2 linked regions of the Homo sapiens genome follow. The protein of the gene in region 2 purifies or fractionates together with the protein of the main gene of each other region. This does not show direct contact. Each region holds a gene or a part of one and is shown on either strand. Other genes may lie near its edges.

The links. Proteins that work in one complex are often made in the same cells at the same time.
Region 1: the proteins of B3GALT2 (region 2) and LTN1 purify together in Homo sapiens (affinity purification with mass spectrometry; 3 studies listed by BioGRID and IntAct, with this or other methods). This does not show direct contact.

What each region holds. Positions count from the first base shown.
Region 1 is NC_000021.9:28,989,272-28,997,191, reverse strand, and holds the start of LTN1 (E3 ubiquitin-protein ligase listerin), read left to right. Parts: upstream 1-4,314; 5' UTR 4,315-4,386; coding exon 4,387-4,428; intron 4,429-7,920.
Region 2 is NC_000001.11:193,183,000-193,191,673, reverse strand, and holds the start of B3GALT2 (beta-1,3-galactosyltransferase 2), read left to right. Parts: upstream 1-5,060; 5' UTR 5,061-5,655; intron 5,656-8,674. UniProt on the Homo sapiens protein: Beta-1,3-galactosyltransferase that transfers galactose from UDP-galactose to substrates with a terminal beta-N-acetylglucosamine (beta-GlcNAc) residue. Can also utilize substrates with a terminal galactose residue, albeit with lower efficiency.

The DNA of each region.
Region 1 (7,920 bases), on a different chromosome or scaffold from region 2:
CCACCTGGCCCAGCCGAAATATATTTTTAAGTGCTTGATGTCTGATTTTCCTCCTCAGAAACTTGTCTGGATGGGTAAGATTATTTTAACATCAGACTTCTGTAAGGCATGCCCAATATTTACTTAGGGAAAAAAGGCTATAATTCTGATGTGTAACTCTTAATCTGTGAAAACAAGAATTTATAATATTAATAATTATGAATGAAGAAGGGAGGGTTTCAAGTCTCTTTTTTTTTTTTTTTTTAACTCCCAACCTGGTTTCTGAAGAGTTTCTAATCTTGGCCTTAAAAGTATTGACATTTCTTTTTTCTTTTTTTCTTTTGAGACAGAGTCTTGCTCTGTTGCCCAGGCTGGAGTGCAGTGGTGTGACCTCAGCTCAGTGCAACCTCTGCATCGTGGGTTCAAGTGATTCTCCTGTCTCAGACTCCTGAGTATGTAGGATTACAGGCACGCACCACCACGCCTGGCTAATTTTTGTATTTTTGGTAGAGACAAGTTTTCACCATGTTGGCCAGGCTGGTCTCGAGCTCCTGACTTGAGGTAATCCTCCTGGCTTGGCCTCCCAAAGCATTGGGATTACAGGCGTGAGCCACTGCACCCAGCCGACATTTCTTGACATAAACATTAACATTTTGACAAAAATTAAACATTATTTTTAATGTTCTTCTGTCCAAACCTTTTCTGCCTATCACCTACTGTATTGATAGAAACAATTATTTTCTGATTTCTAAAACCTTGTATGAATCAATTAAAACAAATTTGCGGGTATCTACTTTGGCAGGCACTGTTTAAGAGTACCATGGAGATAGCCTCACCTTCAAAGGATTTACAGACTTGCTGGAAAATCTAAACATGAGAAACTGTTAAATCAATGAGACTATTTTCAAGTTCCCAAAGCAGTAATATCCTACTGACTTCTGGGTAAAAAAATAAACCAGTTATAAGTTGATGTCCTAGGAAAATCGAAGAGAGATCTGTGTGGCCTGGAGTAGTTGAGGAACATGGCAAGAGGCATGGATCCCTGTTGCAAAAGGTGGAAAGTCTCGTCAGAATACAAGGAAATGAAATGAAGAGATATTTCCAGCAAGAACAGACAAAATTTAGGAAACAATTAGTAAATAGGAGCACAGAAAATCATTCCAGTCTTGTCCTTCAAGTTTTTTTTTTTTTTTTCCCCCTGGGTAAGTCTGCACTGAAGTTAGGCTAGATTCTTGACTGTCCTTTCCGAAATCCATGCTAATCCAACTCACTGTCTCTGTCCCTCTCTCGTCCCCATTTTGAATGTTCTCCCTTTTATTTTACTTTTCCTAATGTTTTCCAAGCTTTGGGCTTTGGCTTGGAAAGCCTATCTGACTACTCAAGCACATGTTAATCTTCCCCTTCTGTAGCATTTTTGATATGTGACACCCACATTTTCAGTGAATGGCATGATATCTAGTAGTGTTTCCAATGTGTTAAACTGTTTGCAGCTATATTGTATAACTCTCAAGAATGAGGACACTACAATTTGTATAACCAATGTACCATGATATATGTAACCAATGATTTATTTTAAACAAACAATATTTGTTGAGTTGATTTTTTTTTTTTTTTTTTGAGACGGAGTCTTGTTCTGTTGCCCAGGCTGGGGTGCAGTGGCGCGATCTTGGCTCACTGCAACCTCTGCCTCCTGGGTTCAAGCAATTCTCCTGCCTCAGCCTCCCACATAGCTGGGGTTACAGGTGCGTGCCACCGTGCCTAGCTAGTTTTTGTATTTTTGGTAGAGACGAGGTTTCACCATCGTGGCCAGGCTGGTCTTGAATTCCTGATCTCAGGTGATCCACCCACCTTGGCTTCCCAAAGTGCTGGGATTATAGGCATCGGTCACTGCACCCAGCCTGAGTTGATTTTTAATTACATAATTAATACATGAAGATGTTGTCCTTGTATAAAATAAAATCTTACAGATAAGGCTTAATTTCCTTTGACTATAACTCTTAACCCTAATGTCTTTTCTTGCCACTTTTTCCCACAAAAAGTCACTACAATGATCAGACTGGTATGTATTCTTGCAGATCTTTATTTTATTATTATTTTTTTTTGAGACGGAGTCTCACTTTGTCACCCAGGCTGAAGTGCAGAGGCGCGATCTTGGCTCACTGCAACCTCCACCTCCTGGGTTCAAGCAATTCTCCTGCCTCAGCCTCCCTAGTAGCTGGGATTACGGCTGCCTGCCACCATGCCCAGCTAATTTTTGTATTTTAGTAGCAACGGCGTTTCACCATGTTGGTCAGGCTTGTCTCAAACTCCTGACCTCAAGCAATCCACCCACCTCGGCCTCCCCAAGTGTTGGGATTACAGGCGTGAGCCACCGCACCCGGCCTATTCTCTGTATTTATATTATATATATATGCATAAATATATATATATATATATTATTGTGTTGTGGGTTTTAAAAACACAAATGGTATCATACTGTATATATTGGTATTTGCTTTTTATTTAAGAATGTGTCTTAGAATTCTTCCTATGTGTGTTCAGATAAACCTTATTCTTCTTAAATGTTGCCTAATAGCTTATTGAATACATATAATTTATTTAGCAGTTCTCCAATATATAGACATAGGTTGCTTACAATTATCTTTCTATTATAAAGTTTTTGTGAACCTCCTGTAATATGTCTCTTTGTGTGACTTTTTTCTGAGACAGTCTGCTCTGTCACCCAGGCTGGAGTGCAGTGGCATGATCTTGGCTTACTGCAACCTTCGCCTCCCGGGTTCAAGAGATTCTCGTGCCTCAGCCTTCCAAGTAGCTGGGATTGCAGGCACCTGCCACCACTGCCCAGCTAATTTTCGTATTTTTAGTAGCGATGGGTTTTTGCCATGTTGGCCAGGCTGGTCTCGAACTCCTGACTTCAGGTGATCCACCTGCCTCGGCCTCCCACAGTGGTGGGATTACAGGCATAAGCCACTGCACCTGGCTTTTGTGTGCATTTTAAAATCAGGGTCCAGTCAGGAAAACAGAAATCACATTAGTTATTGAGAAATATTTTAATATGGGAAATTGGTCAAAAGGAATTATAAAAGGTAACAGGTAATCACTGCAGGTAGCAGCTACCATTCCTAGAGCTAGGAAAGGATGGAACAAAAGAAGTGGTTGGAGTCATCAGAACCTAAAAGCTTGAAGGAGGGCCCTGAACACCTTAGTTCAGGCCTATGAAGAATGAAGAGAGGGTGATGGCTGGCTGTTACTGGATCTCTGGAGCACAAAGAAGGGATCCCACGGTGTTGAGGCTCAAACTTCTGAGGAGGTGGCTCAAACATTGGCTATCTCAGGAGCTCAGGGGAGGGGCCGCATGAAAGTAGAATTCAGATCTCTGAGGAGAGCACTGACTGCTGCTGTGATCTCTGAGGGGTGCAATAAGGCTGATTCTGTGATTGTTGGAAAAAGGATAGAGATTAAAACCACCTTTTGGCTAAAGCAATTGCTCCTGCCACGGTAAAATGCAGCTGCTGCTGGCATGATGCTTACAGAATGGAGCAAGTCCCTTCTTCCTCTTGCCTTTGTTTCCCTCTTGTTCGTCCTGTTGGTGGAATCTAGCAGAAGCCCCCCCAGTAACATGGAGTTGAGTATAAAAGGGTGACTGCGTGGACAAGAAACAATAACCAGCACACATTTACTTGTTTCTCTGGTGTGATTCTGAGTCGCACAATCAATGGGTTACAGGATTTGTACATTTCAAATTTTAATAGGGACTCCCACATTATCCTCTTTCCTAAACTGCACGTTAACAGTTTCAATATGAATAAAAGGGGACGGGGAGGGGAGATTTAGAGAGAATAGTGCCTACAGCAGTAATCAAATTTTAACAAGACTTGGGAATACTGTCAAAATGCAGGATCTGATTCAGGAGTTCTGAGGGGCCCGAGTTGGCCTTTTCTAAAAAACGCCCAGGTGATACTGATGATTGCATCATGTTGGAAGTCTAAAACACTCCCATCTTCCCACAGCCTCTACCATAACATTCTAATGCTACCCTTATGTGAAACTGCCCCTCTGATGATTCACGCCAGTTTCCTACCCTCTAAGCAAGGAACAAACCTAGCTTCTGAAAGCGGGGAGGACAGGATTTGGCGCCACGGGTCCAATGCTTGGCTTCCTATTGGCCAGGAATGACATCACTCAGACAGGCGTGGCTTTAGCTGTGACGTCTCCGGTGGCGGATGGTCAGGGACACAGCGGGAGGCGGGAGCGGAAGTGGGGCAGCAAATGGACAGGGTGGGTGGCGGAAAAGGGCCCGGGGGAAGTTATTACAGGGTGTCCTCTTCCGCCGCCAGAAGCCGGAAGTTGTGTCCCGGACGTGTCAACCGGGGTCTGAGTGCTCAGAGTACAGCTGCAACCGCGACCATGGGCGGGAAGAACAAGCAGCGAACTAAAGGGAACCTGAGGGTGAGCGGGGGCTGGCTCGGCCGACCCGGGAGCCTCGCTTCGAGGCGGCTGGCTCCGCCCAGCGCGTTGCTGGAGGGTGTGTGGAGCGCGGCTGTAGGGAGGCGTGTGTTTCCCTGTCGAGTGTGACCTCTCTGTTGTGTGTGCGTCCCTGAGAGCGGTTTGTGTTATCTCTGAGCAGATTGGGGAATCGTGAGAGAAAAGATGTACCATGCCAGAGCTGTCCTCATCCGAGCACACACCCATAATATTCATGAAGAAATGATAATGTGTCAGGTTCACTGGAAGGTGATCTGGCCGAGGTAGCGGGTTGGTTGGGGGAGGGCGGCGCTGGGAAGAAGGAGAGTTGGGAGAATGTTAAAGTGAATCCACTGTGGAGGTTACCGCAGATTGTGCCTCTCCTTTGCTACCTACAGTGGCTTCTCCTAAGCTAAAGCTCTTAGGATGGTATATTTGGTTTCTGGACTGCCTGTTACCCCTTTCCATCTGCAGTCCCATCTTCAGCTCCCTCCTCTTGGCTTACTTCATCCAGCCACACTGATCTCTTCACTGTGCCTTGACTACCTGGCCGGCTCCCAACGCTCTTCAGTTAGGTGGCTCCAAACTTTGCTCTCGACACCTCAGTGAGGTCTCCCATGATCACCCTCTTGGTAGCCCTTCCCCACTCCCATGTTCTTCCTACTTTATTTTACTCCATTGTATTTATGACATTTATTGTCTTGGTTCACTAGGACGTAAGTATTTTGAAAGCAAATGTTTTTATCCTCGGAACCTAGAACAGACTGGCACCTAATAGACGCTCACTAAGTACTTGCTTAAGGACGACCTTAAAGTGGATTCGTGTAAAACTACACGATGAGGGGTTTTGTAATGGTATTTTTTTATGGTGTTAGATTTATTATAGCACAGTCCAATTTTATGAGAATGCTTTTTTTTCCTGTTTCTGATGTAGTTAATTCTAGTGATTTCAATGTCACATTTTCTTAGATCTGTCACTTAATCTGTTTTGGAAGATAATAACAGTATTAACAATTATAGCAACCTGTTGTGTTACTGTGCTAAGCACTTTACTTGCATCTTTTAATGTTTTTTATTTAACAGATTTTCTCAAATGTTTTATATTTGAAAAGTTCTTATGAGGAAAAGTTGCAAGAATATTAGAACGACATCCCATATACTCTTTACCTACATTTACCAATTGCTAATACTTGGTTGCATTTGCTTTCTCTCTCTTAATTTATGTATTTTTCTGAACTTATAAGAGTTAGTTGCAGAAGTCGGGACTCTTAACTCCTAAATACATCAGCATGTATCTTCTAAAAACAATGCCATTTTCTAGCCTGCAGCAATTATAATAATGGTTATAGTATGCAGAAACTTTGACTTTTGTATAATACTGTAATCCAGGATACAGCCTTGTATTTAGACTTCTGTAGTTATCCCAATAATGTTCTCTTTTTTCTTTTTTTTTTTTTTGTAAGACAGGGTCGCTCTGTCTCCAAACCTGGAGTGTGGTGGTATGATCATGGCCCACTGCAGTGTCAACCTCTTGGGCTCAAGCGGTCAGTCCTCCCACCTCAGCCTCCTTAGTAGCTAGGACTCCTGGCTAATCTTTTTTTTTTTTTTTTCGGGGACAGAGTCTGGCTCTGTTACCCAGGCTGGAGTGCAGAGGCGTGAACTTGGCTCACTGCAATCTCCGCCTCTCGGGTTCAAGTGATCCTCCCAGCTTAGCCTTTCCAGTAGCTAGGACTACAGGTACAGGCCATCACGGCTAGCTTATTTTTGTAGGGACAGAGTTTTGCCATGTTGCCCAGGCTGGGACTTTTTTAAAAAGATAAACCGTTTTAACATCTGAGATTCAGTCAAGGATCACTCATTCCATTTAGTTACCATTTGGGTTTCTTTGATCTAGACAGTTTCTCAGTACTGTTTAAGCGGGGAGAGGAGTGTCTTTTTTAACAAAATTTGGAAGAGCCTGGGCCATTTGTTTGATTAATTCAGATTCATCTAGTTTTTTCCTTATGATTAGATTCAGGCTAAACAATTTTTAGAAGGAATTCTTCATAGATGATGAGTCTTTCTCAGTGCATCACACACCAGGGGCACTTCGCACCTGTTTGTCCCCTTATTGGTGGTATTTGTTTAATTACTTGGTTAAGGTGTTGTTCATTATAAAGTTATATTTTTCCATTGGCCAATAACAAATAATATGTTAGTTTGAAACTGTGAATGTCCTGCTCTTCCACAAACTTTCACCTAATGGTTTGAGCACCCTTTGATTCTTGCTGGAATCAGTTATTACTATGGTGATTTAAAAACTTATGCTTAATCATGAAAACAACCCAACTAATGAATTAATTACTCATATCTCATTTTAAATGTGGTGAAACTGAGGTTTAGAGAAATTAGCTTGCCTAAGCTCATGTAGCCAGGAAGTTGTGGAGTTGGGATTTTAACTTTAATGTGGCAAAGTCTTCAATAGAAGACTCTGATACTGGATGTCAGGTATTCAGAGATAATAGATGTCTGCTGTTCTTGAACTATTAGTTTGATGATACAGACACATATGTAAGCAAATGTTAAAGAATTATGATGCAGGTATTAGAAGAAAGAATGTGGGAGAATGGAAGAGAATGGAGGAAGGCAAGTGTTGCAAACATGAGTTTGAAAGATGAGTAGGAGTTTGTCAGACAGTGAAAAGAAAGGAAGCGTTTTCAGGTAGAGAAAAAAGGTTATATAAAGATCAAATTGTGAAAGGCCATCACATAGATAACTTTTTTTTTTTTTTTGAGACAGAGTCTCGGGTCACTGCAACCTCCACCTCCCAGGTTCAAGCAGTTTTGTTGCCTCAGCCTCTCGAGTAGCTGGGATTACAGGCATGCACCATCACACCCGGCTAATTTTTTGTATTTTTAATAGATACAGGGTTTTGCCATGTTGGCTAGGCTGGTCTCAAACTCTTGGCCTGAAGTGATCTGCCCAAAGATACGCTCAGCCTCCTAAAGTGCTGGGATTACAGGTGTGAGCCACCATGCCCTGCCTCAGAGAACTTCGAATTCAGTTTGCTACTAGGGCATGAATGATGGCAGCATAATTTGAAGAAGGGAGAAGGAAGTGGGGCAAGGGAAGGAAAGAGTGGCAGGAGATAAGACTGGGAAAAGTTGAGGTTAGATGGTGAAAGGTCTTGTAAGTCTTCCTTGGTTTGGTCTTTGTAGACTCAGGATTGCCACCACAAATAACTCTAGAAGCTAGGCATGAAAGAGTGTAGACAGAAGTAGGCATAGTACAAAAAAAAAAATAAGTGCCATAAATAGAATTGTTTCTTAATTTTTATTGAACTATGGGTATAGCACTTAACATACAAAGATCATAAGAGTAACTATATTTTAAATTTAAAGTAGACATTAAAAAAAGATAGTGCATTTAAAAGTAACTTGTTACTTTTAAATTGGAGACTGGAAATTTGATACCTTCTCTTTTGCCCCTAGTTATCAC
Region 2 (8,674 bases):
GGCTCAGGCCTATAATCCCCCGCACTTTGGGAGGACGAGGTGGGCAGATCACTTGAGGTTAGGAGTTTGAGACCAGCCTGCAACATGACGAAACCGCGACTCTACTAAAAATACAAAAATTAGCCAAGTGTGGTGGCACACGCCTGTAATCCCAGCTACTCGGGTGGCTGACGAAGGAGAATCACTTGAAACTGGGAGGTGGAAGTTGCAGTGAGCCAAGATCACGCCACTGCACTCCAGCCTGGGCAACAGAGCGAGACTGTCTCAAAAAACAAACAAAAAGAGAGATTTATGATAAAAATATGCATTTCAGTATGTAAGTCTCAGACATGATTATACCAGAAGATATACTAACCAGATGCTAATACCTATACATAAAGTCATAGTGAATGTAACAATTACAAATGCCCATAGACTGGTATATTGGTGACTCAAATGCCATGAACACAATTTCATTTTTTGATATGGTGAACCATTGGCCAAGTTTAGAACAAAGCAAAGTACAAGCTTCCCTCACTGTACACTGTAGTTACATTTCTAGATAATTCAGTGCACGTTAAAACTGAACAAAATATACTTTATGTTCCAACAATGTTTTAAATTTACTTAATTATAAAAAAGTGTTTCACCTACACAGATAGCCAATGAAACACTCAGAAGTCCTGCAGAACACAGAGCTAGTCTTTGCTGTTTACAAAGACTGTCCCACACACTACTGGACTACTACCTACCCTGGCCCTAAAATGCCCTTAAAAATCATTCTGTTAACTAGAAACATCCTCACAAACTTCTAGAACACCTCGTAGAAATCAGTACTACCCCTACCACTGCCCCCTTGAGAACCACAGCTCTAAGAGTATTATTCCTGACTGAAACAGCTGTGCCTCAGAAAAACCAAGGAATACACAAGCATAATAAAGTATTTGCCAAATCACTGCTGATTGTAAATGCTCATTGTTAATAGTTTGCATGAATTAAAACAGATAAAGGTGTCTATAATTAGTTCTGAAAGAGACACTTAAATTTAGCTTTGTTTTCAAGTCAAAAGAAATTCTTAAACAACATGCCTATCTGCTGCACAAGAAAACTGAAGGAGAAAAATAAGGCAGGCAAACACTGACACTTGTGGTCATTCTGAGATTGCTTATTTGCAATCAGGCTAATTCTTGCTTTGTGAGTTCAAGGAAAGTAAAGCTGGTTCATAAATCATCCACTGACTTTAGAGGAAAATTACAAGCTTTTAATAAACATTTGACTTCTCTTCAAAAAGGGGAAACTACCTATACTAATATTAAATAACCAAAAACAAGCCATTTGTCCAAATCCCTTATGTAATGAAAAAGACTGCATCTGATTATAAATAAAAACAGTCAAGAGAAATAAACTCCAAGCAAACATCATGCAAAATTGTCTAGTCATCTCAATAAAACTAAAATTGGTCTCTAAATAATTGTGTCAAGTGACAGTTTTCAGAGTGGTATGGTGGAAATTATACCTGATCTAAAACATTAAGATTTTTGTCCAACATGGGAAAAAATAGCTGGTATTTCTGGTAAGTCCTAGCTGAAATTAATTCCTTGAATTCAGGGACCAACCACTCATAATAAAGCACAAACAGGAAAGGAGACCAATATAAGAAGACCAGATTCATGTCTCCCTTCTAATGTTACTCAAGGATTTTGCTCATTCCCATTAGATGAAAATCATCCACCCTGGTTGAAGTGCTCTCCCCCTACCTTTCTCTTTTAATCTTTTTACCAAGGACATATTGTTGAATGTACATACATAGATAAACAGATGATGTAACTCCATGAGTTACTATTTAGTAGCCACTTGAACAGCAGATTTACATCTGATTCAACATGTAATAATCATTCAAAACCATTAACTACATGAATACAAAAATAATTATTCCTATACCCAGTAAAAACTGACAATTAGGAGGCATTACAATTCCTGTCTTTAAATTCTGACTCCTTGAAGTCTATACTAGACATGCCCAGGAAAATGCTAAAACCGGCCTGGACAGCTCTGGCCATGATGCACATAGTAACGGCCACCTATTTTGCCATCACGGATGTGTTGTAGGATTAAAAATAGACTTATGCAAGTGACAATTACAAGCCATTTATAACTATAAAACTTAACAAAATAGCTGCCAGTTTGCTGAATCTGAAAAAGAAACCTGTCACATTTACTGAATTAGTTTAACCATAGAATTCAGATGTTAAAAGAAACTAGACTAAAGGAAGAACTTCTACAAGCTCTCCTGTCATAAGATTTTTACAGTTTCTCTTGACTGGAAACATGTAGGTTGCTACAAAAAGTTACTAAAGGAACTTTTATCTCACATCTGCCCTGTTTTCCTGAACTTTACGTAAAGTTCTTAACTAGCTTAACTTAAATTTAACAAACAGGTTGGCTGGGCACTGTGGCTCACGTCTGTAATCCTAGCACTTTGGGAGGCCAAGGCAGGTGGATCACCTGAGGTCAGGAGTTTGAGACTGGCCTGGGCAACATAGTAAAACCTCACTTCTAGTAAAAATACAACAATTAGCCGGGTGTGGTGGCACACGCCTGTAATCCCAGGTACTCGGCAGGCTGAAGCACGAGAATCTCTTGAACCTGGGAAGCAGAGGTTGCAGTGAGACAAGATCGTGCCACTGTACCCCAGCCTGGGCAATAGAGCAAAACTCTGTCTCCAAAAAAAAAAAAAAACAGACAGACAGAAAGAAAGAGGTTGCAGCTGTACTTTTAAAGTATGAAGTAAATTCCAGTTAAGTACATAGGCACCTTTTGTTAGTAATATTTGGAAGTTTCTTGCTGTTTAAATACTTGTCCCATAACAAGCAGTTCGGGGCGGGGGGGTCCCACTGGAAATTCAGGGACTCAATCCGATACTGGAGGGACCCACTAATGAATACGTTACCCATATAACTCTCTTAATAATCAAAATCTATAATAATCCAGGGAGACATTAAAAAAATCCAATCAAAAGAACTGGCAAAAGAATAATAATTATTTAGTCCTTTCCTGGAGAAAGGGGTAGGGAATGTCTCTAAATCAACTTTGTATCCCCTATACTTAATAAGCTATGCCTAAATGCACATGTTGGTACACAGTAGTTAATCAATATGTACCTGTTGAAAAAGTGAAAATATAAACATTCATTTATTATTCTATTAATGATTCCTGGGTATGCTGCGCCAGTGTTCAGAAAAAAAAAAAATCCCACAATTTCTCTAGCAGTGCCATGTAATAAAAAGTTTAAGAACAGAGAATAATGATAGTACTAGATAGATTTAAAAAGAAAACAAAAACACAGAGGATAAGAATTTAGATAATCTTGCTTCAATTCCCAGCTTGGCCTCTATTCTTATCAGTATTTATCTGACATTTGGACTATTTTACAACTCCAGGCACTGGTTCTGCATCTTTTAAGTGGGTATTACAATAATAAAATTATTAGAAAAGAGCCATTTGCATAACAGCTCAAGTAAGCTTAGCACGCAATCTGATTTTCAGTAAATACTCCATAAATGGTCATTGTGGCTAGCTTCATAGTCAAATCCTATGTAAAGAATCACTGATAAATAAATACTGATCTACAAAAACACATCTGTACTTCTGGAAAATAAGTTATTTTAAGTAAGTTCTTAAGCATTACTCTGTTAACTAGTAAACTAATTTTAAAAACAAAACGGTAGTGAGTGAGAATTGCAGTATGGGTGGATATAGACTACAAGGAAGTTGGGTTTTAGTCCTCTCCTTCAAACTTAACTAGGAAAAGTCAAAGCTCAGTCTAGGCTTTAGGTTTCCTATTTATAAAATTCTTTTTTTTCTTTAACGATCCTTCTAACATTTCTAATACAGTGGGGTTCTTAAAACTACAAAGCACATTTCATCAGCAAAGCTCAAAAATATGTGGACAAAATTTTTTTTAATATCAGAGAAAACAAATTCATATTCATTTGAAATAGCATATATTAATGGTGGAGGCAGTGAGATGAAGAATATGTATATAACTGTTAACCTTTAGCTTAAGCTCCAAAACTATAACTTTCTAGGACTGAATTACTGTCCCTAGAGTCACAGAGGAAAAACTGATAATAAAGGCTTTTTACTACAACAAAAAATTTAAAAAAACCTTCCCTACTGCTCTGCAGTAAGAAAAGAAGGTGCCAGCCCCAGAAACTAACCATATTAGAAAAATCTCAGTGAGTGTGTAGTGTTAATAAAATCTGCCTCATGGCAAGTTATTAAATCTTTCTGAAACATTAGAATAAGTAAACATAATTAGTAAAATCTCATTACCCCCAGATCCTGTACAAGTGTGCTATATCTATTACATCATTTTACTGAATTCTACGATACATGTAATTTTAAAGGGAAGGAAAAATAAATAAAAAATAAATGACAACATTAAAAAGTGATTTAAAATAAAGTTTTCTGCCATCAAGAACACCAAAAACCACATAAGAGCAAAAAAGAAGTGGGCTGTATCACATCATGCATTAGTAAAGTAATCCAAGACAGCTTATTTATACAAACCCCAGAAAACGGGGGGGGGGATCTAAATTACAAAGATACATGGTTTCAATAGAAACCATAGGTCTTAACTACATATTAGTAAAAAATCAAGAGCAATTTGAAAGCAGAGAAAAAAAACTTCAAGAAGAGAATGCACTGAAGGGGTTAAATTACACCAACTTACACACAAAAGCTTATACTGCTTACACCCTACAAAAGCATGTAAGAAACATGAAAACCAACATCTAACACAGAAAACACTTAGAAAGCCTGTACTTAAGAATAAAGTTAAAAAAGGAAGTAAGCTGGAAAAAATAAAATCATAACCATTTCATAATCATCACATTTTCAAATTATTCACTCATCACTACACTTGCATTCAACATATATAATTTATCACATAAAAGCAAAATCTCTAAGCTTCTCCCTACCTTAGGTTTTTAGTCAAAATGAATGCAAACAATCACGTGGGATTCAGCCAAGCAGTGACGTTAAATTCTGCTCTGTCAGAGAGAGCATCTGTCAAGCCCACATTTAAACTGCTGCCTGCCTGTGCAGCAGCTGAGGAACCGTGGATTTCATATTATAGACTAAAACCCCATTAAAACTGCTCAAAATCCTTCCTGCAGCTGCCAGGCAACAACGAAAGAAGAGAGGTAAATCCTATTCTTTTCCAATACAACTGAAGCACTACATTTTAGCTCTGGCTGCTTTACATTGCAGCTCAGTGTTATTAGTAGAAATATGGATACTGAGACGAGAACACAGCACTGCATTGTCCAGCCAGGAAAATAGCAGATGTAAAAAGCTTCAATGCATCAACTGTCGGGAAGAGTCAACAGTGCTACAAGCAGAACGGGCAACTACAGCTCTTTTGTTTAACGAAAGAGAGAAAATGAAAGAAAGGGAAAATTTCAGAAGACTAGGACCCATATGAACAAGGAGGGTAACTCGAAGACAAGCAGACAGATGGACACTTTGGATACTGTGAAAAGCAATCGCAGGAGGCAGACTGTTGGGGGATGTGCGCATGTTCGATAGCATCTTTTTTGCTGAAGTGATGGCGTGCCAAAAGTATTTTCAGTGGGCATAATCCTCTTCACATAAATGGCCTGACCAAGGAAGGTATGTCAATATCTTGTGTATGATAGTCATTTAAATGTGTTACCTTTTTATAGCCCTGGAGGCACTAATACCTGATAAGCAAGTTCATACAGCTCACTGCCCTTGAAACTATGAAAAGGTTTCTTAATATCTGATTTTAAAATTTGTCATTGTTTAGAAGACAAGCTGTCACTGCTTTATGCAGCTAAATATGTAGCTTGGAGTAATTCTGGGTAATAGACATCAGAGGGAAAAGGCAAATAAGAAGAAGATGTGTTTAAAGGATTCCTTAAGAAATTAAACTTAAAAAAAAATCTGTAGCCCTTTACAAAAAACACAGCAATATTCTATCAAATTAGGTCAAACTGAATCCTTATCTAGTAAATTAAATGCTCTCTTAAAAATGGCTATCAAAAGACACAATGCAGTGAAATTTCATTAAATAGTAGCAAGGAAAACCTTAAGAGTTTTTTTTTCAAAGTCCTTTTAAAACAAAACCTTAATATGTAACAGCTTTTAGTAACAAAATCTTCCCCAACATCTCCCTAAATGAAGATAATGAACACAACCAAAGAGAGTATCAACAAATTTTAAATATTACCAAGCTACAAGAAGATACTAAAAGGAAAGCATTAACATAAGATCACATAAGGTAGTGTGAGTTTATGCATAACCCCACAATAGAGCCTCGTGTTATTATAGTGACCATGAATAGAACTTTAAACAAAGGGACATCAATAGTGGCTTTAAAAATTAACTATTTTAAATAGCTTACATTTTATGTAAAAGACTGATTCCAAATGATCAAATTTAACGTTGTCTCTGATTATCATTTCAGAAGTGAAATTCAAAAACATAATATGGAAATACTTTGATACAAAAATATCCACAAATGGCAATACAAGGTCAAAAAATTAAATATAAATGTAGCTACTATGCTTCCAGGCTATATTAATATGCAGTAATGAACTACCGCCACTATATGTGTGTGCAGGGCACAGATAAACCAAATAAACTATTTTAGCAACAATCATAGAACAGCAACTCAGGGCTCAAGAACTTAAAGATATTTCTAAAATTCTACAAATCTATCAAAGATCCTGATTTTTCCTCAATTTCACAACACAACTCAGTAATTATCTAATAATCACAAAAGGCAAACATTTTTTAAAAATATGTAAGTACTGCATTCCAAAATGAAGATTAAACAAGTTTACCAGACTCTATTACACCTCAACATCACTCTCACCCATGAATTTTTATTCTAATAAAGACTAATAATAAATAGTACTAAAAAATATGGTTGTAAAAATTTCAAGTCCCTCTTGGTACCTTAATCTCTCAATATTGAAGTCACCAATTAAGCAGTTTTATAAGCTATACATCTCAAAACAAAAGTGTAAGTTTTTCTATTAAACCATCACCAACAGACTAAAGAGATCAACACTTTTAAAAGCCAAATGATAAAAACTGAGTGTGTACTGAACAGCATTTTACAGTAACATTCTCCCCATGAACTTCATCCACAAGCTATAAATACACATTAATAATGTGAAGATATCAAAAAAGAAGAGATAAACCAAAGCTATTTCTCTTCTAAAAATGTAAAAGTGCAGAACTATTTTGCATACTACTGAACTTTCTTGTTTTGCTCTCTCTTTTTAAGAATTAAAATACAACAGGCAATAACTGGAGAATAATTTTATCATTTAATAAAAAGCAGGCATGGTTATTTTAATTTTATATTCTTTTTAACAAAAAAATTTATAAGACCTGAGAATCTTTTAATAAGGAATTTTTTAAAGGCTAGACACATGCACTTCATTTATCAATGGGAGATTTATAGTTATATATGGATTTAATATCTCAACAGCTTAACATCTAAAACATACAAATACCATGAAGTCTAAATTAAGATGCATCTCTATCACATACTGTTACAAAATCATATTAGGACCAAAACTATGTATTTATGCTACATTACAATATGCAATAATTTGCTGTTTTCTGTAATACTAAAATACTTTAGAGACATCTTCAGGTATATTGTTCTTATAAAAGCAACATAAATTATGATTATTTTCCATCATTTATTTACTCAGTCCTTTAACTCAAACATCCATTCAAACATCTGACCTTATTGTTTACTCCTTCTTACACCATCAAATTTACACTTTAAAAAAAATCTGTATAATTGGACTTCAACCAGATTCCAAGTATTATCATATCAGCAGAAAACAGATAACTTATCTTTGTAACACTTAGAACAGATTATCAAATAAATTTTAAAAGCAACTTTTGTTTCTTTTGAATTTACATACATAACCCTTATATCTACTGATATCCTTATGAAGTGGAGCGGAGAGTCATTATTATTTACCAAATATGTCATTTGGAAATAAAAGCTTAAAAATAGTTCCCTGGTCTAAAAAGAATGGCCAGCTATTTAAAAGTACAAGAAGGAAAACACTGAGTTTCTAAATCAGAATGCTCAGCTCTATTATTTTCAGCTTAGCTTACAGCAGAACTATGTTTTGTTGGTACAGTGAATAGCCTTGGTTTTCATTACACTAATGCTGAGTTTAAATTCATATAAACAAATTCTAACAAATAGCATACTAGATGATTTGCTTTTAAAATTCCAAACTTAAAAAAATTGTTCACATCTTTCAAAATGCTTAATTTTTTTACATTTTAGAAATATTATAACTTCTAAAAGTACTCTGTAATCTCAGAAACTAGAAATTTCAAACGCTGGTGCCTATATGGTTGGACCTTAGATATTTGTTCAAATTCCCACCTACTTGCTCCTCCTAGTGGCTGCTACTATAATAGCACTTTCATTCATTTACATCTAACACTTTCAATCAATATTTTCAAAGTACTTAACGTTATGTATGTGAATTTTACTTTATAACTATTCAATTACATGAGGATTTCCATGTAAATTCTATTTCCTAGAAGTAATTAAATTTATGCCAAGGTTAAACAAATTTAATATTAACCATGACTCTCTCATTATCACAGGCTAAATACATAC